Linked DNA regions of Homo sapiens: all the other regions are linked to region 6. The links come from fine-mapping of genetic effects on gene expression. A gene starts in region 6. Each other region holds a variant in brackets. All regions are shown on one strand. Distances are from middle to middle.

The links.
Region 1: its variant is fine-mapped to the expression of FAM153A in whole blood (TOPMed, PIP above 0.99).
Region 2: its variant is fine-mapped to the expression of FAM153A in whole blood (TOPMed, PIP above 0.99).
Region 3: its variant is fine-mapped to the expression of FAM153A in whole blood (TOPMed, PIP above 0.99).
Region 4: its variant is fine-mapped to the expression of FAM153A in whole blood (TOPMed, PIP above 0.99).
Region 5: its variant is fine-mapped to the expression of FAM153A in lymphoblastoid cells (GTEx, PIP 0.97).
Region 7: its variant is fine-mapped to the expression of FAM153A in whole blood (TOPMed, PIP 0.97).

What each region holds. Positions count from the first base shown.
Region 1 is chr5:177,648,790-177,652,857 of GRCh38, reverse strand. It overlaps the pseudogene SIMC1P1. Among named protein-coding and RNA genes, the nearest start is that of B4GALT7, 51 kb to the right of the region's middle. The variant A/G (reference allele first, on the strand shown) is at 2,327.
Region 2 is chr5:177,920,314-177,924,381 of GRCh38, reverse strand. No RefSeq gene overlaps it. Among named protein-coding and RNA genes, the nearest start is that of PROP1, 74 kb to the left of the region's middle. The variant T/C (reference allele first, on the strand shown) is at 2,229.
Region 3 is chr5:177,714,197-177,718,264 of GRCh38, reverse strand. LOC107986489 (a long non-coding RNA gene) reads right to left here. Exons shown (of 5, transcript XR_001743020.2): 3 at 1,663-1,811; 4 at 581-712. It also overlaps a transcript of FAM153A not described here. Among named protein-coding and RNA genes, the nearest start is that of FAM153A, 67 kb to the left of the region's middle. The variant T/A (reference allele first, on the strand shown) is at 1,615.
Region 4 is chr5:177,838,015-177,842,082 of GRCh38, reverse strand. No RefSeq gene overlaps it. Among named protein-coding and RNA genes, the nearest start is that of FAM153A, 57 kb to the right of the region's middle. The variant A/G (reference allele first, on the strand shown) is at 2,036.
Region 5 is chr5:178,378,179-178,382,246 of GRCh38, reverse strand. The region is part of intron 2 of COL23A1 (collagen type XXIII alpha 1 chain); the gene reads left to right. It also overlaps the pseudogene RN7SL646P. Among named protein-coding and RNA genes, the nearest start is that of PHYKPL, 150 kb to the right of the region's middle. RefSeq lists an enhancer at 1,004-1,810. The variant A/G (reference allele first, on the strand shown) is at 2,315.
Region 6 is chr5:177,780,557-177,784,624 of GRCh38, reverse strand. FAM153A (family with sequence similarity 153 member A) reads left to right here and starts at 1,726. Exons shown (of 23, transcript NM_001413826.1): 1 at 1,726-1,882.
Region 7 is chr5:177,688,194-177,692,253 of GRCh38, reverse strand. The region is part of intron 1 of LOC107986489 (a long non-coding RNA gene); the gene reads right to left. Among named protein-coding and RNA genes, the nearest start is that of B4GALT7, 90 kb to the right of the region's middle. The variant T/C (reference allele first, on the strand shown) is at 2,542.

The sequences.
Region 1 (4,068 bases), 130 kb after region 6:
TCCAGCCTGGGTGACAGAGCGAGACTCCATCTGGAAAAAAAAATTATAAACATTATTTTTAAATTGTAAATAGGCCAGGCGTGGTGGCTCACGCCTATAATCCCAACACTTTGGGAGGCTGAGGCAGGCGGATCACCTGAGGTCAGGAGTTCAAGACCAGCCTGGCCAACATGGCAAAACCCTGTCCCTACTAAAAATACAAAAGTTAGCTGGGAGTGGTGGCACGCGCCTGTAGTCCCACCTACTCTGGAGGCTGAGGCATGACAATTACTTGAATCTGGGAGGTGGAGGTTGCAGTGAGCCGAAATCGTGCCACTGCACTCCAGCCTGGGCAACAGAGCAAGACTCTATCTCAAAAATAATAATAATCATAAACTGTAAATACAGGTAAGAAATTCTTATGTAAGAACCTGCCCCTATCTATTTCTACTCTAGATAACTACAGTTTTTGTGTATTGCTCCAGAAATTTTCCTTGTGTGTGCACAAACATATTTAAATGTATAATTCTTTCCCAATGGGGTCATGCTAACTTTTTAAAATTACTTAATATATTATAGGCATTAAAATAAAAACTAAAATTTATATATATTTATATATAATTAGTATATATATTTTAAAATTAAAAAATATGTAATAGACATTTAAAAAATTCATACCTCATTCAGACCATTATTCATTTTGCTTGCAATGGTATTCCCAGTGCACAACATGGTGCCTGGTACATTGTAAGTATTCATTCAATAATCGTTTTATCAGCTGCATGTTATTCTAATGTTAAAAAAACATAATTACTCAGGAATGGAAAACCAAACATCGTATGTTCTCCCTCATAAGTGGGAGCTAAACTATGAGGATGCAAAGGCATAAGAATGACTTTGGCGACTCAGGGAAGGGGTGAGAAGGGGGCGAGGGATGAAAGACTACAAATTAGGTTCAGTGTATACTGCTTGGGTGGTAGGTACACCAAAACCTCACAAATCACCACTAAAGAACTTACTTGTGTGACCAAATACCACCTGTTACCCAAAAACCTATGAAACTAAAAAGAAATTTTAATAAAAATTTTTAAAAACCAAACTTAGCCAGTCTCTTATTGATTTTAATTTTTTTGATGTTAGACTATGATATGATGAATCCTCTTGCATGGTCATTAAAATACGGTTTTTTTCTCTGCATTTTATGGTTAAAAAAGGAAAAAAAATGTTTGTAGGACAAGTTCCTTGCAGTGGAATTTTGAGGATAAAGAGTAATATGTCTTTTTTTATTTTAATATATACCACTATTGTGGACATTATGTCATTCCTTGTGACATCCTAGTTTCTGAATCTCAGAACACTAGGAGTGTACAGAACTCCCACCTTCAGAGATACAATCTACTTCTGTGTAAAGAAGCAGAAATGGCAGATGCTCACTTTCCCAGGCTCTGGTACACCTAGTGCTCAGACGTGGGACCTAGGTTCTACCAGAAGCTGGTGACAGGAAGAAGCAGGGCCCAGGTGAACTCCAATTTAGTGAAGATGGCAGCAGCAGTGGCAACTACATACAGCAGTAGTAACATTCTTTGTTTTTTTCTTTTTTTTTTCAGACGGTGTCTTGCTGTGTCACTCAGGCTGGAGTGCAGTCGCACAACCTCAGCTCACTGCAACCTCTGCCTCCCGGGTTCAAGTGATTCTCCTGCCTCAGCTTCCTGAGTAGCTGGGATTACAGGTGTACGCCACCATGCCCAGCTAATTTTTGTATTTTTAGTAGAGATGGGGTTTCGTCATATTGGCCAGGCTGGTCTCAAACTGCTGACCTTAAGTGATCTGCCCACCTCAGCCTCCTAAAGTGCTGGGATTACAGGCACAAGCCACCGCGCCCGGCTGCTTTTCCTATTTGAAATGAAGTTATGAATCATCTTATCTGTTACTTTTTAAAATCCCATTGGAATTTTGTTTGTAATTATTAAGCTTATAGATCAATTTGGGTAGAACAAATGCTTTTTAAAATTTAAATTTTTGTTATAAAAGGTGTATGATGGCTGGGCACGGTGGCTCACACCTGTATTCCCAGCCAGCTCTTTGGAAGGCCGAGGCGGGTGGATCACTTGAGGCTGGGAGTTTGAGACCAGCCTGGCCAACATGGCGAAACCCCATCTCTACTAAAAATACAAAAATTAGCCAGGTGTGGTGGCATGCACCTGTAATCCCAGCTACTCTGGAGGCTGAGGCAGGAGAATCACTTGAACCCAGGAGGTGGAAGTTGCAGTGGGCTGAGATCATGCCACTGCACTCCAGGCTGGGTGACAGAGCAAGACTCTGTCTCAAAAAAAAAAAGGGAAAAAAA[A/G]GTTTTATGAATAAGTAATTTAAGTAGACCTATATTCAATAAAGAAATAGAATCAATAATTATTAGTAACCTTCCAAAACAGAAAGCCCCAGGCCCAGATGGGTTGGCGAGTGAATTCCAACAAATATTTAAGGAAGAAATGATATAAATTCTCAACAATCTTTCAGAGAATAGAAGCAGAGGGACTACTTGCTAACTAGCTCTATGAGACCAACATTACACTAATACCAAAGCAAGACAAATTATAAGAGAAAACTACAGACCAATATCTTTTATGAACACAGATGCAAAAATCCTCAACAAAATATTAGCAAATCAAATCCAACAATGTTCAAAAAGAATTACACATCGTGACCAAGTAGGATTTCTCCCAGGTATGCAAGGTCAATTCTACATTTGAAAATCAATTAAATCCATTAATGCAATTCACCACATCAGTAGGCTAAAGAAGAGAAATCACATGATCCCTTCAATAGAGGCCAAAAAAGCATTTAACACCCATTCATGATTTAAAAAAAAAAAAGCCTTCCAGCAAACTAGGAATAGAGGGGAACTTCCTCAACTTCCGAAAGAACATCTACAAAAAACCTGCCACTAACATCATACCTAATGGTGAAAAACTTGAAGCATTCCTACTAAGATCAGGGATAAGGCAAGGATGTCTCCTCACTACTCCTTTTCAGCATTGTACTGGAAGTCCTAGCTAATGTGACAAAAAAAGAAAACAGAAGAAAAGAAAGATACAGGGCTGGGCATGGTAGATCACGCCTGTAATCTGAGCACTTTGGGAGGCCAAGGCAGGTGGAGTACTTATGGCCAGGAGTTCGAGACCAGCCTGGCCAGTGCGGTGAAATCTCGTCTCTACTAAAAATATACAAATCAGCCAGGCATGGTGGTGAGCACCTGTAGTCCTAGCTACTTGGGAGGCTGAGGCCGAAGAATCACTTGAACCCAGGAAGCAGAGGTTGCAATGAGCCGAGATTGCACCACTGTGCCCCAGCCTGGGTGACAGAGTGAGACTCTGTCTCAAAAAAAGAAAAAGTATGTGGATTGGGAAGGAAGAAATAAAATTGTCTTTGTTCACTGAAGACATGATTTGTCTATGTAGAAAATCTCAAAGAATCTAGAAAAAAACCTCTTGGAACTAACAAGCAATTATAGTGAGTTTGCAGAACACAAGGTTAACATACAAAACTCAGTTGCTTTCCTATATACTAACAATGAAAAAGTGGAATTTGAAATGAAACATACATTACCATTTACATTTACATTAGCACTCCCAGAAATTGAACAAATAGGCGTAAATATAACAAAATATCTACAAAATCTTTATATAGAAAACTGTGATGACGGGTGTCAAAGAAGAACTACATAAATGGAGAAACATTTCATGTTTGCGAATAGGAAAACTCAATGTCATCAAGATGTCAATTCTTCCTGACTTAATTGGTAGATTCAATGCAATCCCAATCAAAATCCCAGCAATTTGTTCTATGAACATCAACAAACTGATTGTAAAGTTTATATGGAGGGACAAAAGATTCAGAATAGCTGTCTTAGTTCATTTTGCATTGCTGTAAGGGAATACCTGAGGCTGAGTCATTTATAAAGAAAAGAGGTTTATTTGGCTCATAATTCTGCAGGCTGAACAAGAAGCATGGCACCAGCATCTGCTTCTAGTGAGGACCTCAGGAAGCTTCCAACCATGGCAGAGGTGAATGGGGAGCAGGTATGTCTCATGG
Region 2 (4,068 bases), 140 kb before region 6:
CCCCCACCCTTTCTCACTCACTTCTCCTCCTTCTTCTAAATACACTAAATGCATGCCGGGAATAAATTAATTCTGTATCAGATAGTTGAGAGAACTGCAGAATTATACATCTCCACCTTGTACCTTCTGAATTTTTGTGCATTATTGGGTATTCAAATGAGTAAACAAATAGTAAGGTGCTTATTTTCATAATTTTAAAAAATCAAATTGTAAAGATTAATTCATTGAAAACGAAGTCCCCTGACCCCCTAATTCTACTTCACAACTTATCTTCATCTTAACTCTGGTAAGATTTCATTTTCAGCATAAATAGCATCATATCACACATCCGGTTCTCCCCTAACGACATGGTATACCCTGGGCACCTTTCCACCCCCACACATCTGGGGCTACCTCATTCTTTTTTGCAGCTAAAATGTTTTCCATGTCTTGGATGTACTGGGGTTCGTGTAGACCCATTTTGGTGGACATTTGTTTCCAGTTTTGTTTTGTTTTCTTTCAGTTTTGGTTTTGGCTATTAAAAATAATTCTCTACTGGACAGTCTTTTACTTGCATCTCTGCGTATTTGTTGGAGTTTCTTTGTAGAATACATTCTCAACTGGAGGGCAAATGGCTTGTACACTGTTTACATTTCACAGACATTGCCACAGTGCCCTCCAAAGAGGCTGTGCCCCTTCCCCTCCTACTGCCTCAGCCCAGGAAAGAGACTATTTCCCTGCCCTCAGCTGTCAGGAAACCTTTAGCTCTTTGACAAACTCATGAGTGAAAGATGATAGCTGTTTTATTTGTATTTCTTAATTATTAGTGAAGTTGGTATCTTTTAGGGCTAAGTCATTTGCATTTTTTGATGAATCGCCTCATTATACACTTTACACCGTTTCTTTAAAGGGGTATTCTTTCCTTATTTCATTTCAGCGATGTTTTAGCACCTACTCTGTAGTGGTTTACCACCCCCTTGTGAAACAGGATAGAGTGTGTCTGCACGGAAGCAGGGGGCAGAAGCAAACAAGAGTTCCTGTGTGGGGCATTCCCAACACAAAAGAGAGGTCATCAAGCCTTGAATCTGGTGAGACTTGAAGCATCTGATTACAAATGGACTGAGCCTCCATTTCCTTATCAGTAAAACAGAAAAATACAGTAATTCCTGTCCCTTGGTGAAAAAAAGCACAAAACCGTATGTGTAGGTCAGAATACCAGTCAAAACTGACATAAACCAAAAGGGAACTTATTGGTTCATGTAACTAAAAGCTCCAACTTCAGGCATGGCTGGATCCAGGTGCTCAAACACCATCAAGCATCGTCTGGCTCTCTCCACATTTCAGCTCTGCTTTCCTCTGTGTTAGCTGCATTCTCAACCTAGAGATACTGAGATAGCACCCAGGAGCTCCAGACTTATATCCTATTGATTCAACTATCCACGGAGAGCAGCTCCAGCAAAAACCCAGGGATTCGCTGTGATTGGTCTGGACTGGGTCATGCATCCATCCTCAAGCTAATCACTGAGGCTTGGGTGATAGACGATATAGATTCACCAGGCCTGGAGCTGAGGGATGAGAATGAGTCCCATATGAAGCATGTGGCCTGAGCAGGAAGATGAGGAAATTCAGCTGCTGTTACCAAAAGAAAGGACAGGATAAAACTATAGATGTCCCTCTGCGAGATTTTAGCCCTGCCTCAGCTATGTGACCCTGGACAAATTATTTCTCCTCTCCAGCCCTTGAGTTCCCTACCTGTAAGATTCTGACTTCAAACTCAATTGCTGATTTTGATACCTTTTGTAGCAGAAAACTTTTTTACTTTTCAATAAACAATACATGGAACCCAAAACACAGAACAGATAAGAGCTGTATTTTATTAGAAATGTTACTTGTGTTTAATTTTTATTTTACTTTACGCTCTGGGATACATGTGCAGAACATGCAGGTTTGTTACATAGGTATACATGTGTCATGGTGGTTTGCTGCACCTATCAACCCATCATCTAGGTTTTAAGCCCCACATGCATTAGGTATTTGTCCTAATGCTGTCCCTCCCCTGGCCCCTCACCCCCCAACAGGCCCCGGTGTGTGATGTTCCCCTCCCTGTGTCCATGTGTCCTCATTGCTCAACTCCCACTTATGAGTGAGAACATGCGGTGTTTGGTTTTCTGTTCCTGTGTTAAGTTTGCTGAGGATGATGGTTTCCAGCTCTATCCATGTCCCTGCAAAGGACATGAACTCATTTTTTA[T/C]GGCTGCATAGTATTCCATGGTGTGTATGTGCCACATTTTCTTTATCCAATCTATCATTGATGGGCATTTGGGTTGGTTCCAAGTCTTTGCTATTGTAAATAGTGCTGCAGTAAACATACCTGTGCATGTGTCTTTATAGTAGAATGCTTTATCATCCTTTGGGTATATACCCAGTAATGGGATTGCTGGGTCAAATGGTATTTCTGGTTCTAGATCCTTGAGGAATCACCATACTGTCTTCCACAATGGTTGAACTAATTTACACTCCCACCAATAGCGTAAAAGTGTTCCTATTTCTCCAAAGCCTCGCCAGCATCTGTTGTTTCCTGACTTTTTAATAACCTCCTTCCTAACTGGCGTGAGATGGTATCTCATTGTGGTTTTGATTTGCAAAAAATGTTATTTGTTTGATCCAGTATTAGTCAGGATAGACCAGAATCTGCTGTAATAAATAAACCCCAATATCTCAGTGGCTTAACACACAAAGGTTTGCTTCTTGCTCCTGTCACTGTTCGGTGCAGGTCAGGGAACTCTTCTTAGCAGATCTTCTCTACCCCTCAACCAGTGGTCCAGAGACCCACCCTCCCACCATCTGTGGTTCTGCCATGATACAGCTCTGGCCTCTGTGTAAGGGGAAGAAGCCACAAACTCCATGTCTGCCCACATCCCAGGGGCCCTCAGCATCCAGTCACAGGCCTCTATTCAAAGGCAAGAAACTCTGGGAAATGTAATCTTCCTCTACTGGAAAAGGAAAATGACACTGTATGTTCTATAACATTTACTTATTATAAGGTCAGTCATTGAGAACAATGAGGTTGTTTTGATAGATCAAAAAGAATAAGAAATTCCGCTGGGCGTGGTGGCTCACGCCTGTAATCGCAAAACTCTGGGAGGCCGAGGCGGGTGGGTCGCTTGAGGTCAGGAGTTTGAGACCAGCCTGGCCAACATGGTGAAACCCCGTCTCTACCAAACATACAAAAATTAGCTGGGCGTGGTGGTGGGCGCCTGTAATCCCAGCTACTCGGGAGGCTGAGGCAGGAGAATGGCTTGAACCACTGCACACCAGGCTGGGTGACAGAACGAGACTCTGTCTGAAAAAACAAACAAACAAACAAAGAAATTAGATATCATGGATGACAGATTTAGTCATGTCTCAACCTCAGCACTGACTTTAAGCTTCAAAACTTTTAAACTTTTTAAAGTTGCAAATATATTAAGAAAATCCCAGGTCAACAAGTAATAGCAGTTGAAAATCCTAGCAGTATTTAGAACCTTGCTTTGCTTGCAATTTTTAGGGTCCTCTTTACTTGTACAGAGATAGCAGGACAAACTTCAGTGTCAAACTTACTGACAACTGAGTTAATGGCAGAAGAAACTGTGCTGGCCATCTCCAGATGCTAACATTTAGTATGCAATATATCCAAGGGTTTTTGTTCTGTTTATTACAATGCTCAAATCCATATTTCAAATGTGAAGCTCAAATACAGTGTTTGCGGAGGGCTCTGTTCTGGAGCGCACAGTGCCAGAGGACCTTTGGGTTTCATAATGCATATGCATCTAAGCAGAGAATGGCTGGGTGTCCTCAGGCAAGACGTTTCCCCTCATTAGGCCTTGGTCTTTTCATCTATAATAGGGAAGGCTCAGCAAACCCCAGGGCCTCGACCAGAAAACAAATAAACAAACAGACCACACACAAACACACAAAGATCCTTTGCTTTTGGTGAAGGCATCTGCCACGTTGTGACAATGCTCAGGTAGACTAGATCGGGCAACGGAGAAAGAACCTCAGGCTTCCAGACATCAGCCACTGAACAAGCCTGGAGACGTCTGCTTCAGCTG
Region 3 (4,068 bases), 66 kb after region 6:
AGGCAAAACAATGGACATCTACATATTCTTCATTCAGATCAACCAGTGGCTAGCATTTGCCACCTTTTGCAGTTTCTTTCTCTTTCCATAAGTACTTTCTTCTCTGAATCATTTGAAAGTAAGTTGAAAAGAGCATGATGTTTTACCCCAACACTTCAGCGTTTATCTCTTGTGAATAATGACATATTTCTATGTAATTACAGTTCTACCATCTAACTATAATACAGTAATTTGATGTACAGCCCATATTCAGATTTACCTAATTGTCTCCAAAATGTTCTTTATTTTTGTTTTAGATCCACAGTTTAATCAAAGATTAACCTTGCCTTTGGTTGTCACGTCTCTCTATTCTTTTACTTTGGAGTAGTTCTTTCAATACATGAAACATTTTGAAAAATCTAGGCTCTTTGTTTTGTAGAGTGACCCATAATCTAGATATATCTGGTTGCTTTTTTCTTCTCCTGACTAGAATAGATTGAGCATTTTGGCAAGAATACAGATTAAACAGTGTTCTCATGAGTGGATCCAGATTAAACAGGGAATAATGCCTAATTCAGATTAGGCAGTGTTGTGTACTTACCGCCTCACACCAGGAGATGTTTGCGTCTGTTTGTCCCACGATTGCTGATGCTATGTTTAATAATTTTGGTTGAGATAGTGTCAACTGGACATCTCCTTGTGAGGGTAGCTTTTCCCTTTTGTTATTAGTCATCTGTGGGATGAGACATCAAAGCACTGTGAACATCTTAGTCCCTGGCAACCTTCACGAGCTGGTTTCAGCATCATTGCCGAAGCCTCTTGGAAACATTGATTACACCCGTGGTTCCAATGGTGATTTTTCTCATTCCTTTTACATTGATTACCTGCCTCCTTGAGTAAGGTAGATGTTGTCTACTCCCCATGTTTTCCCTTCAAAATGTTTAATTTTAATTTAAATGATTAATACAGCTAAGTTATTCTTTCAACAGGCAAATGAAAACAGTAGCCTAAAGTGTCAGTTTCAACCCGAAAATAACAGCTCTGATTTCTCATGGCTCACACTCGTCTGAAATGACTCGGGTAGAGGCTGAGGAAGGCTGTGTTGTTTGTCTACCTGGGACTAGTAAGTATAGAAATAGAATTCCTTTGTTCTTAAATTCTACCTTTGACTTTACTTTTAAAATATAATTTCTTTGGTACGATTTAGCTCATGCCTGTAATCCTAGCATTTTGGGAGGCCAAAGAGGGAGAATTGCTTGAGCCCAGAAGTTTGAGACCAGACTCTACACACACACACACACACACACACACACACACACACTAAGCGGGAATGGTGGCATGCTACTGTGGCCTCAGCTACCTGGGAGGCTGAGGTTGGAGGATCATTTGGACCCAGGAGGTGGAGGCTGCAGTGAACCATGATTGTGCCACTGTACTCCAGCCTGGGTGACAGAGCAAGACCCTGTCTCACAAAAGAAAAAGAAGAGATCATCTATTAGTCCTCTTGATTTTTGTTAAAATGTGTTATGTGATAGTTGATAAGCTTTATGCATATGTCAATCTGTGGCCATTTAATTTTGGGCTAAGGACTTGTTCTATTATAGCACAGTAATCATTTTACTAAATAGTGACTAT[T/A]TGTCATTAAAAACAATATATTTAGTTTTAATACAGTTGAATACTCACAAATTTCTGGGGGAACTTGGTCAGGACATTTCAACTGAGAATTGTCAGGCACCTTCTCGCTGATAGGCATGCTGCTCGGTGGTGCAGCTCATAAGCAGACAACCCCCTTCATGTAATTTAGTAGGAAAATGACAGAAATACTTGTGTAACTATAAAGTAAAGCAGAATTCTGGTTATTGAATCACAGCACCTACTGAAAGAAGTTCTCAAGTTCTGATTGAGTTCTAAAATTCTTTTGAAGATTGGAATTCTTCATATGTAAGTAAAAACAATTTCTGATGACCCATTTCTAGTCCATCTCCTAAAGAAGTATTTAATCTGGGCCATGCATGGTGGCTCACGCCTGTCATCCCAGCACTTTGGGAGGCTGGGGTGGGTGGATCATGAGGTCAAGAGATCAAGACCATCCTGGCCAACATGGTGAAACCCCATCTCTACTAAAAACACGAAAATTAGCTGAGCATGGTGGCACGTGCCTGTAGTCCCAGCTACTCGGGAGGCTGAGGCAGGAGAATCACTTGAACCTGGGAGGTGGGGGCTACAGTGAGCTAAGATTGCGCCACTGCACTCCAGCCTGGCAACAGAGCAAGACTCCATCTGAAAAAAAAAAAAAAAGTATTTAATCTAAGCTGGGCATGATGGCTCACTCCTGTAATCCCAGCACTTTTAGAGGCCAAGGTATGAGGGTTACTATAAACCAGGAGTTTGACACCAGCCTAGGCAACAATAGCAAGACCCCGTTTCTACAAAAAAAAATTTAAAAATTAGCTGCGCAGGAGGCTGAGTTGGGAGGATCACTTGAGCTTAGGAGTTAGAGGTTGTAGAAAGCTATGATCATACCACTGCACTCCAGGCTGGATGACAGTGGGCCCTGTCTCTAAAACACAAAAAAAACTAACAAAAAAAGTGTTTAATCCATAAGATGACCACATTTATAGGAGGCTCCCAGCAATCTTAGCCTGAAGCCATGAAGGAAGACGCAGTGTGAAGGCAAGTACAGGCTGGCCTCTGGCAGCTGAGGATCAGGACAGGATGTGGAGTGAACCTCCACATCAAAGCTTTATTGCTTGGATTGGAAAAAAAATTCCTATCTGTAGGTCAGCCTTAAAATACACCATTTCATAAAATATTGTCTTTCCCATATTTTGAGCCCATGCAATTTGTGCTACCTGAGGGAACAGTATTGTGTCCTTGATTTGGTGAGATCAGTAGCTTTCTTATCTTATTGAGTGACAGCTACAGAACTCAGAAACAGAAGCTGCATATTAAGCAAATTTACATCTTTCTTGTTATAATATTATTGTGTATAAGAAATAGAGATGGCCGGGTGCGGTGGCTCACGCCTGTAATCTCAGCACTTTGGGAGGCTGAGGCAGACGGATCACAAGGTCAGGAGTTTGAGACCAGCCTGGCCAACATGGTGAAACCCTGTCTCTACTAAAAATACAAAAGGCAATAAGAGGTTCTATGTGGACTTTGAAGGTCGTCTCTATCAATTTGAGGTTGGGAAGAACAGTTTTGTTGACATCCTTTAGCTGTGTTACAAGTACAATTTTGTTTTTTACTCAGGCAAAAGAAAATGTGTGTGTGTGTTAAATACAGTCAGCCCTCTTTATCTGTGGGTCCTGCATCCTTGCTTTCTACCAACCTCAGATCAAAAATATTCCAGAAAAAAAAGGATGGTTGCATCTGTACTGAATATGTACAAGCTTTTTTTCTTGTCATTCTTTATGCAATAAAGTATAACAACCATTTACGTTGCATTTCCATTGTATTAGGTATTGTGGGTAATCTAGAGATGATTTGAAGGATATTGGAGGGTGTGTCCAGGCTGCAGGCAAGTACTATGGCATTTTATGTCAGGGACACCTACAGATTTTTGTCTCCAGCCATGGTTCCTGTATAGTTTAACATTTCCACACGCTGAGGGTGTGATGGGTCTGAGTTGGGTTGGTCCCCCATGTTTGAGGAAGTGTGCCCATCATGATTGTACACCCTTGTTGTAAACTTCGGATATGTCTATTTTGATATTTAAAACATTTTCAGGTTAAGTCTGAAAAATGCCAAGATAGTAACAATATTTTAAAAGGGAATTCAGAAGTATTACTATAATAATAGAACTCATTATTAGAACATTCTAATAGTAGAAAAGGAAGTCTATTTATTTTATAAAATTGTCAGTTCAGCTTAAGATCTAATAGTCTTTTCCAATTAGCATCAACTTAATTGAGACTACCTCAAAAGAAGAATTTAACACTTATTTTTGTAGAAAAAAAGCAATTTTAAAATAGCCTGGGAAAACTTAGGTAAGTTTTCCTTAATCCTGACTCCTAATTTGTGGCTAGAAGTGGCAATGATATGAACATAAGTTGTGCTATTTGTTAATATATTGCTTTTCATAAATCA
Region 4 (4,068 bases), 57 kb before region 6:
TCATCTCTTTATTTTATCTGACTTCAACACATCTAATAACAGAGCTTCAAAATATATGAAGAAAAATCTAATAGAACAGCACAGAGGAATAGACACATTTATAATTATAACAAGATTTCAATCTCCCTCTCCCAATCTTCCAGAGATTTCATTGTCTTCCAGATAATGAGTAGGATATAGTATACTTGAACAGCATTATCAACCAACTTAACCTGACATTTATAGAATACTCCACCCCAACACAACAGAATACACATTCTTTCCAACTGCATAAGAAATTTTTACCAAAATATCCATGAGTATGAACTCATGGATATTTACTGTATACTCTGGGTTATAATCCAATACTACTCTCTTTATTCTGCTGCTCCAGTTGTTCCAGCTTTGACCATTGGGAGCTCTTTCAGTCGGCTCCTGTCATGTAACCCCATCAAATACGGTTTTCCTTCTTCAGTACTTCCTTACTTTCTGGTGCTACAAGATGTTCCAGGCTCATCTTGTGTATTTCCTGCCTCAGTCCTAAAATCAGCCACTTCAAGGAGTTCTAGATTGTTTTACTGAAGAATGGTTTTAAAAACCAAGATCTGGGTACTAGGTGTGCTAACTGCTATTGAAGCAAACAATCAATTTTGAGAAAGGTGCAAAGGTAATTCAGTGGAGAAAGCAATCTTTTCAACAAATTGTGCTAAAACAACTGGATATCCATATGCAAAAAAAAATGAGGCTGGGTACAGTATCTCATGTCTGTAATCCCAGCACTTTGGGAGGCCCAGGTTGAAGGACTGCTTGAGCCCAAGAGTGTGAGACCAGCCTGGGCAACATAGTAAGACTCCATCTTAAAAAAATTTTTTTTTACTAATTAGCCAGACTGGAGTGCAGTGGCACAATCTCAGCTCACTGCAACCTCCATCTCCCAGGTTCCAGCAGTTCTTGTGCCTCAGCCTTCCAAGTAGCTGGAGTTACAGGTGCCCGCCACCATGCCTAGCTAATTTTTGTATGCTGAGCCTATTTTCAAACAGGTCATCTTTTAGCTGCTCTGAACTTCATGTTTATTGTGTTGCTGGTCAAAAATTACTGGTTTGGGCTCCTTGAATAAAAGGCTGATTCTAGGCCTGAGGCAGGGAAAGCGTAAGATGAGCCTGGGGCATCTCGTAGTGTAAGAAAGTAAGAAAGCACTAAAAAAACCAACAGGCCAGGTGCAGTGGCTCATGCCTGTAATCCCAGCACTCTGGGAGGCCGAGGCGAGCAGATCACCTGAGGTCAGGAGTTCAAGACCAGCGTGGCCAACATGGCGAAACCCCATCTCTACTAAAAATACAAAAATTAGCTGGGCGTGGTGATGGGTGCCTGTAATCCCAGTTACTTGAGAGGCTGAGGCAGGAGAATCACTTGAACCTGGGAGGCGGAGGTTGCAGTGAGCCAAGATTGCACCACTGCACTCCAGCCTGGGAGACAGAGTGAGACTCTGTCTCAAAGAAAAAAAAGAAAAAAACCAACAATGAAGAAACAGAAACCAGAACAGAGGATGGGTACATGTCAAAGAGATACAGCAGCCAATGTAAAAAAGCTACCAATGGTCAAAACTGGAACAATTCAAGCAATAAACAGAGTAGTATGAGGGGCTTTAAAAAGTTCTTGGAAAAAACGCAATTGAAAGATAAAAATTAGGGCTGGGCACAGTGGCTCACGCCTGTAATCCCAGCACTTTGGGAGGCAGAGGTGGGCGGAATACCTGAGGTCAAGAGCTCGAGACCAGCCTGATCAACATGGAGAAACCCCCTCTGTACTAAAAATACAGAATTAGCCAGGCGTGGTGGCACGTGCCTGTAATCCCAGCTACTTGAGAGGCTGAGGCAGGAGAGTGGCTTAAACCTAGGAGGCAGAGGTTGCAGTGAGCCAAGATTGCACCATTGCACTCCAGCCTGGACAACAAGAGCAAAACTCCGTCTCAAAAAAAAAAAAAGTAAGAAAGGTAAAAATTAAAAATACAAACTTTATTTCTTAACAGACGCTCCATCAAGTTCAAGACACTTTT[A/G]TAAGTGATGATGCCAGCCATTTAGTCCATTCTTAAAGAACTGAGGGTCCTGGGAATTCAACTGTGATAACGTAGCATTTTTTACGTTATTAATGGAAGAAAAAATGGGTGCCCTTTAAAGATTTTTGTAAGATTAGAAAACAAAAAAAATAGAAGGAGCCAAATGAGAACTGTAAGGTGAATGCCTAATGATTTCCAATAGAAACATTTGCAAGGCCAGGTGCAGTGGCTCATGCCTGTGATCCCAGCACTTTGGGAGGCTGAGGTGGATGGATGACCTGAGGTCGGGAGTTCAAGACTAGCCTGACTAACATGGAGAAACCCTGACTCTACCAAAAATACAAAATTAGCCGAGCATGGTGGCACATGTCTGTAATCCCAGCTACTCAGGAGGCTGAGGCAGAAGAATTACTTGAACCTGGGAGTCGGAGGTTGTGGTGAGCCAAGAGTGCGCCATTGCACAAGAGCGAAACTTGCAAAATTGCCCTTGTTTGATGAGAGGAATGAGCAGGAGCATTGTCGTGGTGGAGAAGGACTCTATGGTTAAGCTTTCCTGAGCTAAAGCTTTTTTTTTTTTTTTTTTTTTTAGCTTTCTGCTAAAGCTTTGGCCAACTTTCTGAAAACACTCTCATAATAAGCACATTATTGTTCATTGGCCCTCCAGAAAGTCAACAAGCAAAATGCCTTGAGTATCTCCAAAAACCAGTTGCCATGATCTTTGCTCTTGACTGGTCTGCTTTTGCTGTGACTAGACCCCTTCCGCCGCTTGGTGGCCATTGCTTTGATTGTGCTTTGTCTTCAGGATTGTACTGGTGAAGCCACGTTCCATCTCCGGTTACATGTCTTCGAAGAAATGCTTCAGGATCTTCATCCCACTTGTCTAAAATTTCCATGGAAATCTCTGCTCTTGTCTGCAGCTGATCAGGGTGCAATGGTTTTGGCACTCATCGAGTAGAAAGTTTTCTTAACTTTTTCAGTCAGAATTGTGTAAGCTGAAACAGCTGAGATATCTATGGTGCTGGCTATTGCTTTTGCTGTTAATTGCCAGTCCTCTTCTATTAAGGCCAAACCAAGATGAATTTTTTTCTTGCAAATTGATGCAGATAGTCTGCCACTGCAAGCTTCATTTTAAACATCATCTCATCTCCTCCCTTCTTAAAACAATGTATCCATTTGTAAACTGCTAATTTCTTTGGGGCATTGTCCTCATAAACGTTTCAAAAAGCATCAATGATTTCACCATTCTTCCACCCAAGCTTCAATTTGATGTTTCTGTTCCACTAATTTAATGTTTGTCCCTGTTTCAAATTTAGCAGAATTTATGTTTTTCTGAAAGGGGCTCTTTTCAAACTGACGTCTTATCCTTCCTAGTGCCTCAAACTAGATTCTGTTCAGACATGTTATAACATGTTAGTATGAGTTTATTTTGATGTGAAAAAATGCTTGAAATCCGTGTATAGTTTTTTTCATAATATTAATACATACTTTCCATGAACTTTTTGAAGACCTTCACATCGGATTATAACCCAAAGTATGAAATAAATATAAGCGAGTCCATACTGATGAAAACAGATGATTAAATAAATCAGTGTGGGAGAAGAAACAAATTTTCCTTACAGAAGAATTCCAACTAATATCTGTGAACACTTTTCCCACCCCCAAACCCACCCACCAGAAGGTGAAGCTTAATCCTCTCCTCCCACTTGAGGATGGGCTGGACTTAGTGACTTGCTTCCAACAAACAAAGTATAGAATATGGGAAAAAACAAACTTTATGGTGGAAAAGCCTGGGAAACATTACCCTAAACAAGTGAGGAAGGTTAACATTATCAGTGATAAGTCATGCTGATAATCACATACCTCTGGTATGATAAAAATATTTCACCTCTCTGGGGTTCTTCCCCCAAAACCATAATGGTAGTTAATGGAGTCAAGGACGTGCTATCCCCAAATATGCTTAATCGGTATATTGATTATTTTGAATGAAAAACATTGGAGAAATTGTAGCTTCAGAAAGGGCTAGCTGACCTGTC
Region 5 (4,068 bases), 600 kb before region 6:
CAGCCGCAGCAGCTGCAGCTGGGACTCTGTGCCCCCACCACTCTTGTGTGACCCTCAGCAGACACCCAGCCTCTCTGAGCGTCGGCCTCTCAGCTGAGAAACCTCAGCCCCCCAGGGACTGTGCCAGAATGCCCCACCCATTCCCCCCGAAGATTCCAGTGCGGACTGAGAACCGAAACCCAGAAATAGGCATCTCTGTTGGTCAGACCATCTCACATGGAGACTCGAGGGCAAGACTAACCTGCCCTCAGAATGCCTAGGATTCCCACCGGAGGGGGCACAGGCCAATTTGATCCAAAAATTCCAGGCAATGCTGGGTGTGATGGTTCGTGCCTGTAATCCCAGCACTTTGGGAAGCCGAGGCGGAAGGATGGTTTGAGCTCAGCAGTTCAAGAACAGTGAGGGCAATAGAGGGAAATCCCATCTCTACACAGCATTTAAAAATCAGCCGGGCGTGGTGGCACCCACCTCTATTCCCAGCTACTCAGAAGGCCGAAGCGGGAGGATTGCCTGAGCCGGGGAGTTCAAGGCTGCAGGGAGTCACGATCATGCCACTGCACTCCAGCGTAGGCGACACAGCAAGACCCTGTCTCAAAAAAAACCACTCCAGGCCAGATCACCCTCTGTGTGGCTAGGCCTGGGCCCGGAGACACAGAATTCCCATATGGCATGACAGCCTGCTGCTCTGTATACCATTCCGTCCTCACTAACACAAATGCATGGATAGATGGTAACAGCACAGCTCAGGTGAAACCACCCACAGACCAGCGACAGGCAGGACCCTCTCTCCCGGTGGTGCTGGTGTCCCAAGCAGCTGGTCCTGCTGGCATGGACACACCTTCTGCTCTGAGTGGCACTTCTCAGCCTTCTCGCCATCCCCATGGCCATCGTACTTGCTGGCCTTCCCCTGTGGAAGGTGGGAGTAGGGGAGCCGGCAGGGTCCCCTGGGCTGGTGCAGCTTCCACACTTCCCTACATCCTGAGGAGGGCCAGCTGCTGGCTTAACTGTTCTTCTTTCCCAAGTCCGAAGGGACCTTTGTAAGCCACCCCCTAATTATTTGTTGAAGGCAACGTCACCAATCCTCACAGGTGGAGTGGATGAGTGAGGGGCAGGGAGTGGCAGAACCCCACTCCACTTCAGTGACTGTGGCCATGCCAGACCCTCTAGGCCCAGGTAGGCCAGGGCCCCTTGATTTTCCAGGTGAAAACTTGCAAAATTAGGACTTGACGATGAAATCTGCCTGGTAGCACTGGCCACGGATCGGAATGGGCCTAGCTAGATGTGCCTGCCGGCTGGGTGGGCCCACACATCTCCAGGGTGCGTCTTTGCCCTGCCCTCCCCACTCCCCTGCCCTGCTCAGCCTTGGCCTCAGCTGTCCCCACACCCGCTGCCCTGGAAGGCTGTCCTGGCAGAAAGCACTCATATTGTGACCCTGCTCAGCAGGACGCTGGGGACAGGTGAAGTCCCTGCCTTTTCTCTCCTCCCTCTCACTGCGGCTGGTCCCGACATTGGCCCCGGACGTGATCCTCCCTGCCTCTGTCCCGGCCGTCCTCTTAGCCAGGGCCGTGCTGTTCATACCACCTCCTTCATTGGCTCAAATGCCACTTCCCATTCACTCATTCTGGTTTTAAAACGTTGAAAAACATTTCCACGTAGAAATGTATACATTCTGTTAAAAATAATGAATAATGAGTGAAATCAACTGCGACTGAAAAATCAAAACTTGGAACTCCTGATCAGCAGCTGTGGTGACAGTGCCTTTTCCCCTTCAGCAGAAAAAGAAAGAAAATATGAGAGAAGTACAAAAACAGGAAAAAAGCATACACACACACACACACACACACACACACACAAATGCATGCTCTAGAAATCCAAGGATAAGTTTTACGTGGCTGCACTGGAGTGTCCACATCCCACTGCTGGGCCCCGCCTTGGTGTGCCACATTGGACCCCCTCATCTAGGTCACCTGTGACCCAGAGTTGCAGTCCCCCCCAGCAGGTTCTGGTCTTCATCCTGCTCCAACACTAGGCAGCAATTGACCCATTGACTTTCCACACCCTGCTGTCTGTGGCTTCTACAGATAAATAAAACCATTCCTCAGTGGTAAAAAGGGCTTCAGCAAAACAGGCCACATGTAGAATTTTGTGTATAGATCATCACGGTTCACAAAACACAGGTCATGTTGGAGGCAGCATCGGTTCAGGAACTAGCCCTGAAAGTCTGTGGAGCCTGGTTCCAGCTCCAACCTGAGGCTGTGGGGCCTCCCTGACCTTCAGTTTCCTCATCTATAAAATAAGGTTGAACTAAATGGGT[A/G]GTTATTTTTCCTTGTTTTTGTTTTCTTTTTCTTTTCTTTTTTTTTTTTTTGAGATGGAGTTTCGCTCTTGTTGCCCAGGCTGGAGTGCAATGGCGTGACCTCTGCTCACCGCAACCTCCGCCTCCTGGGTTCAAGCAATTCTCCTGCCTCAACCTCCCTAGTAGCTGGGATTACAGGCATGCACCACTAGGCCCAGCTCATTTTGTATTTTTAGTAGAGACAAGGTTTCTCCATGTTGGTCAGGCTGGTCTCGAACTCCCGACCTCCGGTGATCCGCCCACCTCGGCCTCCCAAAGTCCTGGGATTACAGGTGTGAGCCACCACACCCAGCGTGTTTTCATTTTTATAGTTCTAGGTTTTTCTCTATTAATTACAGGGGTAATACATGAATTCTTGCTTACTGTAAACAAAAGTAATACAAAAAGTACCAAAATACAGAGAATAATGTGTCAAAGGCTGCCTTCATCCCTGCAAGACCCCTCTGCCCAGAGGTCCCACTATTACCAGATTCATGTGTGTCCATCCAGGCCTCTTTCTCTGCATGTACACACACAGAGGTACACAGTGCACGTAGAGAGTTTTGTTTAGTATTTTTCTGCTTGTTTCACTTTTCCAGTCCTAGCATCTACGGTCAACAGTGCTGACTCATGAGATACCTTTCAAGTTTTGGTTAAATGAATAAGGGTTTTTTTTAGTTGATCACTATGTCTTGGAGAGCTTTCTGGTTTGTTTGTTTTTTTTAATTGTCTCATAGATACACAATAATTTAATCAAATTTCTCTAGTGCAGGTTCACAATCTGTTAGCCAAACCCTTTGAGCTTGACGTGTGCAGAATTCAGAATCCTTCTGGGGCAGCTCCCATAACCAGACAGGCTAATGTTTCTGCAGTGAAATGTATAAACACACCCGCAAGTGAGATAAATAAAGTCTAGAAACAGCCTCACATCAATCTGGCTTGCCTCCAACTGAAAACTACTCCAGTTTAACATAAACTCTTGGCTCTTAGAGCTTTTGGGATTCCAAATAAGAGAAGGATGGGGTCTCTGTGTGGAGCCTCAGTCAGACCTGTTGGGCAAGCTTGGCCAAGCCTGGGTCTGCCTCAGGATCTTCCGTCCTGCGGCCGCTGCCACCTGCCAGCGGTCTCCATTCACCCTGTCCTTGAGCCTTGGTGATGAGGGTCCTTCCTCACCCTGAGGCAGGTGACCTTTCCCAGGAGGCACCAAACCTCCCTGGGCACTCAGCGCTGCTCCATCCCTGCGTATCCTGCAAACTGCCCGGCCCCACCCCACATCCCATCAGCTCTGTTCATTGTCGCCTCTGCGGGGGAACTTCTCCCATCTCCACGCCACCTTCTCCCTCTTGGGTTGGTGTTAGTGACCTCCAGCCCTAACCCTCACTTGAGCTCTGGTTTTACTACTCTGATCACACTGGATTTACCAAAAACCCATATGCCAATTCCCAGTTAGGCTTCCCAGCCCTGCCCTTCTTGCCACTCCCTCCAGTCAGCGGCAGAAGTACAGGTCCCATACCGGTATCGTCCTGCTTGAGGAGGCCCACTTGCTGTGGGGCATGGACTGCAGTCCTCAGGGGGTGCAGGAAAACCCTGAAATGGGGCAGACTGAGTGTCTGTGCACATGTGCATTTTCCCAGGGCTCTGTGGGGCCTGTTATCCCCTTGGAGAGCTACCACTGTGGCTCTTTTTACTTTTTAAAAGATGGGGTCTCACTATGTTGTCCAGGCTAGAGTGCAGTG
Region 6 (4,068 bases):
TGAAAGATAGCAAAATTTTAACTAGAAAAAATAAGTTAATATCTAATAATAGTTGACTTGTTGATTAAAATAAGTAGTTATTATGAAAGAGAAAAAAGGTGATTTCAAATTGATTCAGAAGAACTGGCCTAGCAACTAAGATTGTATGCTTTCCTTTTTTTTTAAAAAAAAAAAGAACGGATATAATGTTATGTGACAATTAAATACAGAAATTACAAAACTAGTTAAATTGATGTTGCCATTAAAGCAACATTAAATAGTTTTGGGGGAGAAGAAAGAAGCCGAGAAGATGGTATCTGTGCAGTTAAGATGGTCATGTCATTTGATACATGTAAACAGAAAGCAGCCTGAGGCCCACACCTGCACCATGCTGAAAGAGCTGACCAGCGTTATATGTTCAGTCCTAGATGAAATGCTGCATTTGTTTTTTAAACACTGGTATGCATTGTTTTAAAAATGTATAAAATAACAGTGAAAAGTTAAAGAATCGTAAGAATGTAGCTAAAGGTAAAAAAAATTTGCAAAGCCATAATTTTTATGATGAAACAATATATTTTTTATCTTTTACGTATAATGTTTTAATGCTTTTTTAGCCCAATGAAATGTGGAAGTGTTTTGTGATTTTTATCTTACTATAGTGATTGTTTTATAAACAAAGAAAAAATTAATTCAGGATTGCAGATATGGTAAACTATTAAAATAGTTTGGGTATTAAAATATGAAATAATTGGGTATTAATTCAAAATCCAAGAGTTGCCATTGAACAAACCTGTAGGCATAGGTAAGTGCTGAGGTGAAAGTGCCAACCAAAGCCGTTAGATTGAACATTTATGCCTGGAGGGAATCAGTAGAGGAACTGGCTGTGGACCTTCACCTCTGCATCCCCTTTGCTTTCTGCTGTAGCTGGGTATCACAAAAACAACAACAAAAGCCACTTATTTCTTAAAGACAGAGAAAGGATAGTTCCTTCCATTTAGGCATTCCTAAATTGCCTCCCCGGTGGCCCCTGCGCTCTTGGAGGAGGTCAAGGCAGAGCAGACCCTCAGGTGGGGGAGCGATGCACTTGACCCTGAGGACATCAGGTACCAGGCCCACTAGCCCCCGCAGGCGCGGAGCTGCGGCTGCAGCCACCAGCCTAGACGTGGCGCGCCCGCAGCAAGTGGCTGGACACCGCAGACCAGGCCCGCGTCCCCAGCAGCGCGGATCCCGGGGCCAGCCGCCCAGGCAGCAAAGTCAGGCGGTCGGCTTCGCCAGCAGCCGATGAGTCTCATCCTGTGGATTGCCCAGCGCCAGGGATCAGGATCCGGAGAGGTGTCCAGGAGGAGCAGACCCTCAGACCAGGTAGGCTGTGCACTCAGTGACCCTGACGCCATCCAAGGGAAGCTCCGCCATCCCGCGCCAGTGCCAGAGCTGCAACTGCAAACTGCGCGTCCTGGCACGAGCAGCGGTGGGGGCGGGTGGGGGAAGGAGCGAGTGACTCTCCAGGCGTCTTCCGCTACCTGACACCAGCCAGGCAGCCCCCAGGGCCAGAGCGTCAGCGCCGAAGCCAGGCTCATCCGGGAAGCCACTCCGGTGGCCGCGGGGTGCCCATGCCAGCACCAGATCTCTCTTCGGAAGGAGGAGCGGGGCGGGCTACACGGCCAGGCGGGCCCTCCCCTTAAGGCGGGGTGGGCCGCGCGCCTGCGATTTTCCGTCCGTGGTCCTGGGGCAGCCCTGGCCAGCCCAGGAGAACCCGCGAGCCCAGCGGCGCCTGCACCTGCGGCTTCCGGGAGCCGGGCGGCTTTGCGAGGCTCACTAGGTCTGAGAGGTCGGAGGCCGCCAGTGTCGCTGCTGAAGGGTGGACCAGGCGGGATCGCGGATTCTGGGCTAGATCGCAGACTTGGTATCGCGGATTGGGATTTGGATCGGGGATTTTGAGTTGGATCACGGATTGGGGGTTGGATCACGGATTGGGGTTTGGATCGCGGATTGGGGGTTGGATAGGGGATTTGGAGTTGGATTGGGGATTTGGGGCTGGGTGTGGGGCGAGGGGGAGTGAAAAGGTGACACGGAGCTGCCGCGGCTCAGGAGCCAGTGGTTGGGGGTCTGAGAAGAACTCACCACCTTGAAGAAGTTCTTCGGCTTTGGGAGCCGCAGGGGCCGGCGGTCCGGGGCTCCCTAGGCCACGTCTACAGGGGTTCGGGGTACCGAATCGGAAGATCCACAGGGCGCTGTCAAGGGCGAAGCCGCGGAAGTGGAGCGCTGCCTGGCGCGCAGGAGCAGAGACCTGGAAGCCGGGGACAGGCAGCACAGGCAGTGGGGTGGGGGCTCAGCCCAGGGTGGGAGGGGGTCCCCAGGCCCGGCTTCCCCGCAGCCCCTGGGATGGGGCCTCAGAGGGCACCCTCAGAGGGGTGGTGCCAAACGGAGCCTCAGCTGCTCTGCATCCCCCATAATTCCCCAGCTGGAGCGCTTGGTGGAGAATGTGAGTGATTTAACTCACCAAGCTAAGCATACACAGTGTTATTTTTAACCTACACGTTTAAAACATGGTGTTATATACATTATAGGAGGTGCCTAATGAGAGAACTCATTCCTCTATCAAAAAATACCGTGAGTCGGCCGGGCGCGGTGGCTCAGGCCTGTAATCCCAGCACTTTGGGAGGCCGAGGCGGGCGGATCACCAGGTCAAGAGATCGAGACCATCCTGGCTAACACGGTGAAACCCCGTCTCTACTAAAAATACAAAAAAAAAAAAAAAAATTAGCCGGGCGTGGTGGCGGGCGCCTGTAGTCCCAGCTACTCGGGAGGCTGAGGCAGGAGAATGGCGTGAACCCGGGAGGCGCAGCTTGCAGTGAGCCGAGATGGCGCCACTGCACTCCAGCCTGGGCGACAGAGCGAGACTCCGTCTCCAAAAAAGAAAAACAAACAAACAAACAAAAAACCGTGAGTCATTTTCAGTAGCGAAAAGCTCTCACCTAAAACTGTCCGTTTTACATCCGTATCCACCTGTGTAGATCGGTTCTTTACTGAAGGTTCTTAGAAGGAAACTTGGAAGTGGGAGGTGGGTTCTGTGTTCCTGAATGGGAAGACACATTTTTCTCAAAATGTGAGCTCTTTCTGTGATTATCAATTTTACATAAGCCGAATGAAAAAATCAAGGTTTTAACATTTTTGCATGACACCTACTGTCTTTTACTATTGTAATGACATTTGTAAAAATTTTAGGGCTGGGCGCGGTGGCTCAGGCCTGTAATCCCAGCACTTTGGGAGGCCGAGGTGGGCGGATCACGAGGTCAGGAGATTGAGATTGAGACCATCCTGGCAAACACGGTGAAACCCTGTCTGTACTAAAAATACAAAAAAAAAAAAAAAAAAAAAAAATAGCCGGGCGTGGTGGTGGGCGCCCATAGTCCCAGCTACTCCGGAGGCTGAGGCAGGAGAATGCTGTGAACCCGGGAGGGGGAGCTTGCAGTGAGCCGCCATCCAGAAGTGCTGGGATTACAGGTGTGAGCCACCGCGCCCGGCCTGAAAAGTGCATCTTCATTTTACAGGGAATTCTTTCAAATCAAATAATCAAAAACTGTAAAAGGGGGCAAAGTACTTTTTTGCAGATCTACAAGTTTCTTATGTAAATAGGAAAAAAAGCCTTTGCTTTTCTGGTATAAGAATTTAAATTAAAAGAGGAATGAAACTGTTTTCTATCCACAATGTGTGAGGATGTTTTTTATACTGCTGCCTGAAGTTTAAGTTGCTGATTACTTTTTAAATAGATAATTTGGTGGTAAGTACTATATTTTAAAAATGCGTATGCCCGTTACCCTTCAATTCCATTATACTAAAATACCCTTGGGAAATAGAGATACATGCACTTTGTTTTTCACAGCACTTATTTTAAAAAGAACCCATAGAATGGATCTTATAAGTAAATTTCAGTTGCATCCATAGGATGCAATAATATGTGACCATCAAAGGTGACAATAGATATAGAAGTACGTTGATGTGCGAAGATGTATTTTGTTTTAGCCAGCGAGGAAAAAAGAATCAGTTTGATTACACATTTACCAAACATTAAGAATTTAATATGGTAAC
Region 7 (4,060 bases), 92 kb after region 6:
GGAATTACAGGCATGAGCCACCGTGCTGGGCTAAATCTTCTTCTTAAAGCGAACTCTTTGCATTCAGTTCTACCACAGGATCTCAGTAATTCTCCAACTGCCTGTTAAGCAGCTTCACCCTCTTGATATTAATGCTTTTATAAGGGAGATAGTACACGATTGCTATTTGCAGAGGAACCTCCAAAACTATCACCCAGATGAAACTTCTTTATATTTGTCCTAGTGATGTTATTTACCCCCACACCACAACTTCAATGTGCTGAAGTACTAGTATTTAACTGTTTTTCTCATACTCTTTACAGCCCATCTTCTTTCCTGCCTTCCTAAGTTTACCATATATTGTCATTTTCCTTAAATATGATTCTGTTTTTACTCTATCATAGCTAGCTACTGCCTCAAATGGCTGCACCCAAGCACCCACTCTACCCAGTAATATCTCAAGTTGCTAACGTAACACACAATACTGACTGCTGAATATGCCCACACAAGCAGGCACTTGAGGATGACATTACACTCCTTCCTAGCTGTTGCACTATCTATAGAAGAAATTGTTAACATACAAGCCCAATAGTCTGGATTCGACTACACCACTTACACACACACCAAAAACGCAGGTTTAAGAGGGGGACCTAGGCCAATGGATGCCTCATGGCAATCATCCACCATGACAAAGTGGATCGGGAAGGCACCAGAGATGGCCTGTAAGGCAAACCTCTGCATTAGAAACTCCAAGGGGTTCGGCCCTTTCCTAGGGGCTTTAACACAAGTGCATTGCAATTCTGCCCTCAACTATAATCAGGTACACCAGGAACAGGTGCCATATGACGACTCTGATCAGCTCACTGTGGACGCCCACAGGCTTTCTCTATTGCGGGGAAACAACAAAGTTAATGCCTGCAAGATTGATGATGATGACTTTATGCCTATAAACAATTCAGCAATGGGGATGGAATATATAGGAATAGGGGTCAAGACTAGACAACTCCTCATCCTCACTAATACATCTACATCTTTTTCTCAATTTTCCCTTATCCCATTAATATTTAGAAATCTTTATCTGTCAGACCCCACTTCTCCCACCTGTAATAATGCTCATAGCAGTTCATTTGTACCATTCATTGTTAATGCAATGTCTCATTTTGTGTCTTCTAGAATACAACAATTTCAAACCAAAATGTTACTGCAGCAATGGTATCAGCCATTAAGGGTACTCCATTAACTCTCCTTTAAACACAGCAGGACAAAATTTTAGGCTGCTAAATAAATGCTGTTCCCCCATAGTCCCACAGTCACCCCGCCCAATTCAAGTCCCAACTCCGGGGTTTAGGCCCATATAACCTCCTAACAGGCCAGTAATCCTAGGTAGGGCCACCTCTATGCCCCTGGTCAGCAGGAAGCAGTTGGAAGATGAGACCTTCACCCACATGACAAAGATTTGTCACTATTGCTCTGTCAGCAAGAAAATGTAGAGTCTTAATTAGGGAAAAGGAGTCAGGCTGGTGGGACTAAGGGAAAGCAAAAAGAGAAGGCAGATAAGCTGTAAGTTTGCCTTTCTTCATGGTGCAGGACACGTAGCCCTCTTGGGCAAATAACTCACAGTCTTCCTGCACCTATCAACAGACCCTCGGCTGACAGAAAACTGCAGGTTAGCTCACTGGAACCTCGGTGTTATCAATACTGCACAAAGACCCCTTCAGCACACAGCACAAGCATCACCCTGTAAAATCCCCAGCAAGTCTTTGTCTCCTTGTAGTTAGCTTCTCTCTTGCAAACTTGCCTGTTGCTTCCTTGCAATGTATCTTCCTACTTTCTCTGATACATCTGCCTTTCTTTACCTGCAACTGTCTTGGTAAACTCTTTTTACCACCAAACCACCAGCCCCAGATAGTTACTGCTCACCCATGACAGATTAGACAGAGTCCTTCAAAAGCCTAATGCATAAAGAAAAATCTGATAAATTAAACTGCAGAAACATTTAAAAAATGTTTGCTCTTAAGAAGACATCACTTAGAAAATAAAAAGAAAAATCACAGACTAGAAAAAATATTTGCAAATCATATACCTGATCAAGGACTTGTATCTAGAATATATAAAGGCCTCTCATAACGCAATAAGTACACAAACAATTCAATTAAAATATGGGTAAAATATTTGAACATTTCACCGAGGAAGATATATAAACTGTTAACGAGCACACGAGTAGATGCTTGACATCATTAGTCATTAGAGAAATGCAAATTAAAGCCATAATGAGCTACCACTAGAATAGCTATAATTAGGTAAGACGTTGGTAAATTACAGAACCACCTGTTTCTGTATAATAAAGTTTTATTGCAATACAGCCCTCCCATTTATTTATAATGTATGGTCTATGCCTGCTTTTACACTATCATGGCAGAATTGAGTAGCTGCTACAGAGACCACAGTGGTCTGCAAATTCTAAAATATTTACTATCTGACCTTTCACAGAAAAAGTGACAAGTATTGGTGAGGTTGTGGTAGGTAAATCATACCTCAACACTGCTGATGGTGTGTCCAGAA[T/C]TGGTGCGTTCTTGGTCTCACTGACTTCAAGAATGAAGCCGCGGACCCTCGCGGTGAATGTTACAGCTCTTAAGGTGGCGCGTCTGGAGTTTGTTCCTTCTGATATTTGGATGTGTTCGGAGTTTCTTCCTTCTGGTGGGTTCGGGGTCTCGCTGGCTCAGGAGTGAAGCTGCAGACCATTGCGGTGAGTGTTACAGCTCTTAAGGCAGCGCATCTGGAGTTGCTCTTTCTCCCTGGTGGGCTCCTGGTCTCACTGGCTTCAAGAGTGAAGCTGCAGACTTTTGCAGTGAGTGTTACAGCTCATAAAAGCAGTGTGGACCCAAAGAGTGAGTGAGCAGCAGCAAGATTTAAAGCAAAGAGTGAAAGAACAAAGCTTCCACAATGTGTAAGGGGACCCGAGCGGGTTGCCACTGCTGGCTGGGGCAGCCTGCTTTTATTCTCTTATCTGGCCCCACCCACGTCCTGCTGATTGGTAGAGCCCAGTGGTCTGTTTTGACAGGGCGCTGATTGGTGCATTTACAATCCCCGAGCTAGACACAAAGGTTCTCCACGTTTCCATCAGATTAGTTAGATACAGAGTATCCACACAAAGGTTCTCCAAGGCCCCACCAGAGCAGCTAGATACAGAGTGTCGATTGGTGCACTCACAAACCCTGAGCTAAACACAGGGTGCTGATTGGTGTGTTTACAAACCTTGAGCTAGATACAGAGTGCCAATTGGTGTATTTACAATCCTTTAGCTAGACATAAATGTTCTCCAAGACCCCACCAGAGCAGCTAGATACAGAGTGTCGATTGGTGCACTCATAAACCCTGAGCTAGACACAGGGTGGTGACTGGTGTGTTTACAAACCTTGAGCTAGATACAGAGTGCCGATTGGTGTATTTACAATCCCTGAGCTAGACACAGGGTGCTCCAAGGCCCCACCAGAGTAGCTAGATACAGAGTGCCGACTAGTGTATTTACAATCCCTGAGCTAGACATAAAGGTTCTCCATGTCCCCACCAGACTCAAGAGCCCAGCTGGCTTCACCCAGTGGATCCCGCACTGGGGCTGCAGGTGGAGCTGCCTGCCAGTCCCACGCCATGCGCTCGCACTCCTCAGCCCTTCGGTGATCGATGGGACTGGGCGCTGTGGAGCAGGGGGCAGTGCTCGTCGGGGAGGCTCGGGCTGCACAGGAGCCCACGGAGGCGGGGGAAGGCTCAGGCATGGCAGGCTGCAGTCCCGAGGCCTGCCCCGCGGGAAGGCAGCTAAGGCCCGGCGAGAAATCGAGCGCAGCGCCGGTGGGCTGGCACTGCTGGGGGACCCAGTACACCCTCCGCAGCCGCTGGCCCGGGTGCTAAGTCCCTCATTGCCCGGGGCCGGCAGGGCCGGCCGGCTGCTCCAAGTGCGGGGCACGCCAAGCCCACGCCTACCCGGAACTCCAGCTGGCCCGCAAGCACCGCACGCAGCCCCGGTTCCTGCTCGCGCCTCTCCCTCCACACCTCCCTGCAAGCTGAGGGAGTGGGCTCCGGCCTT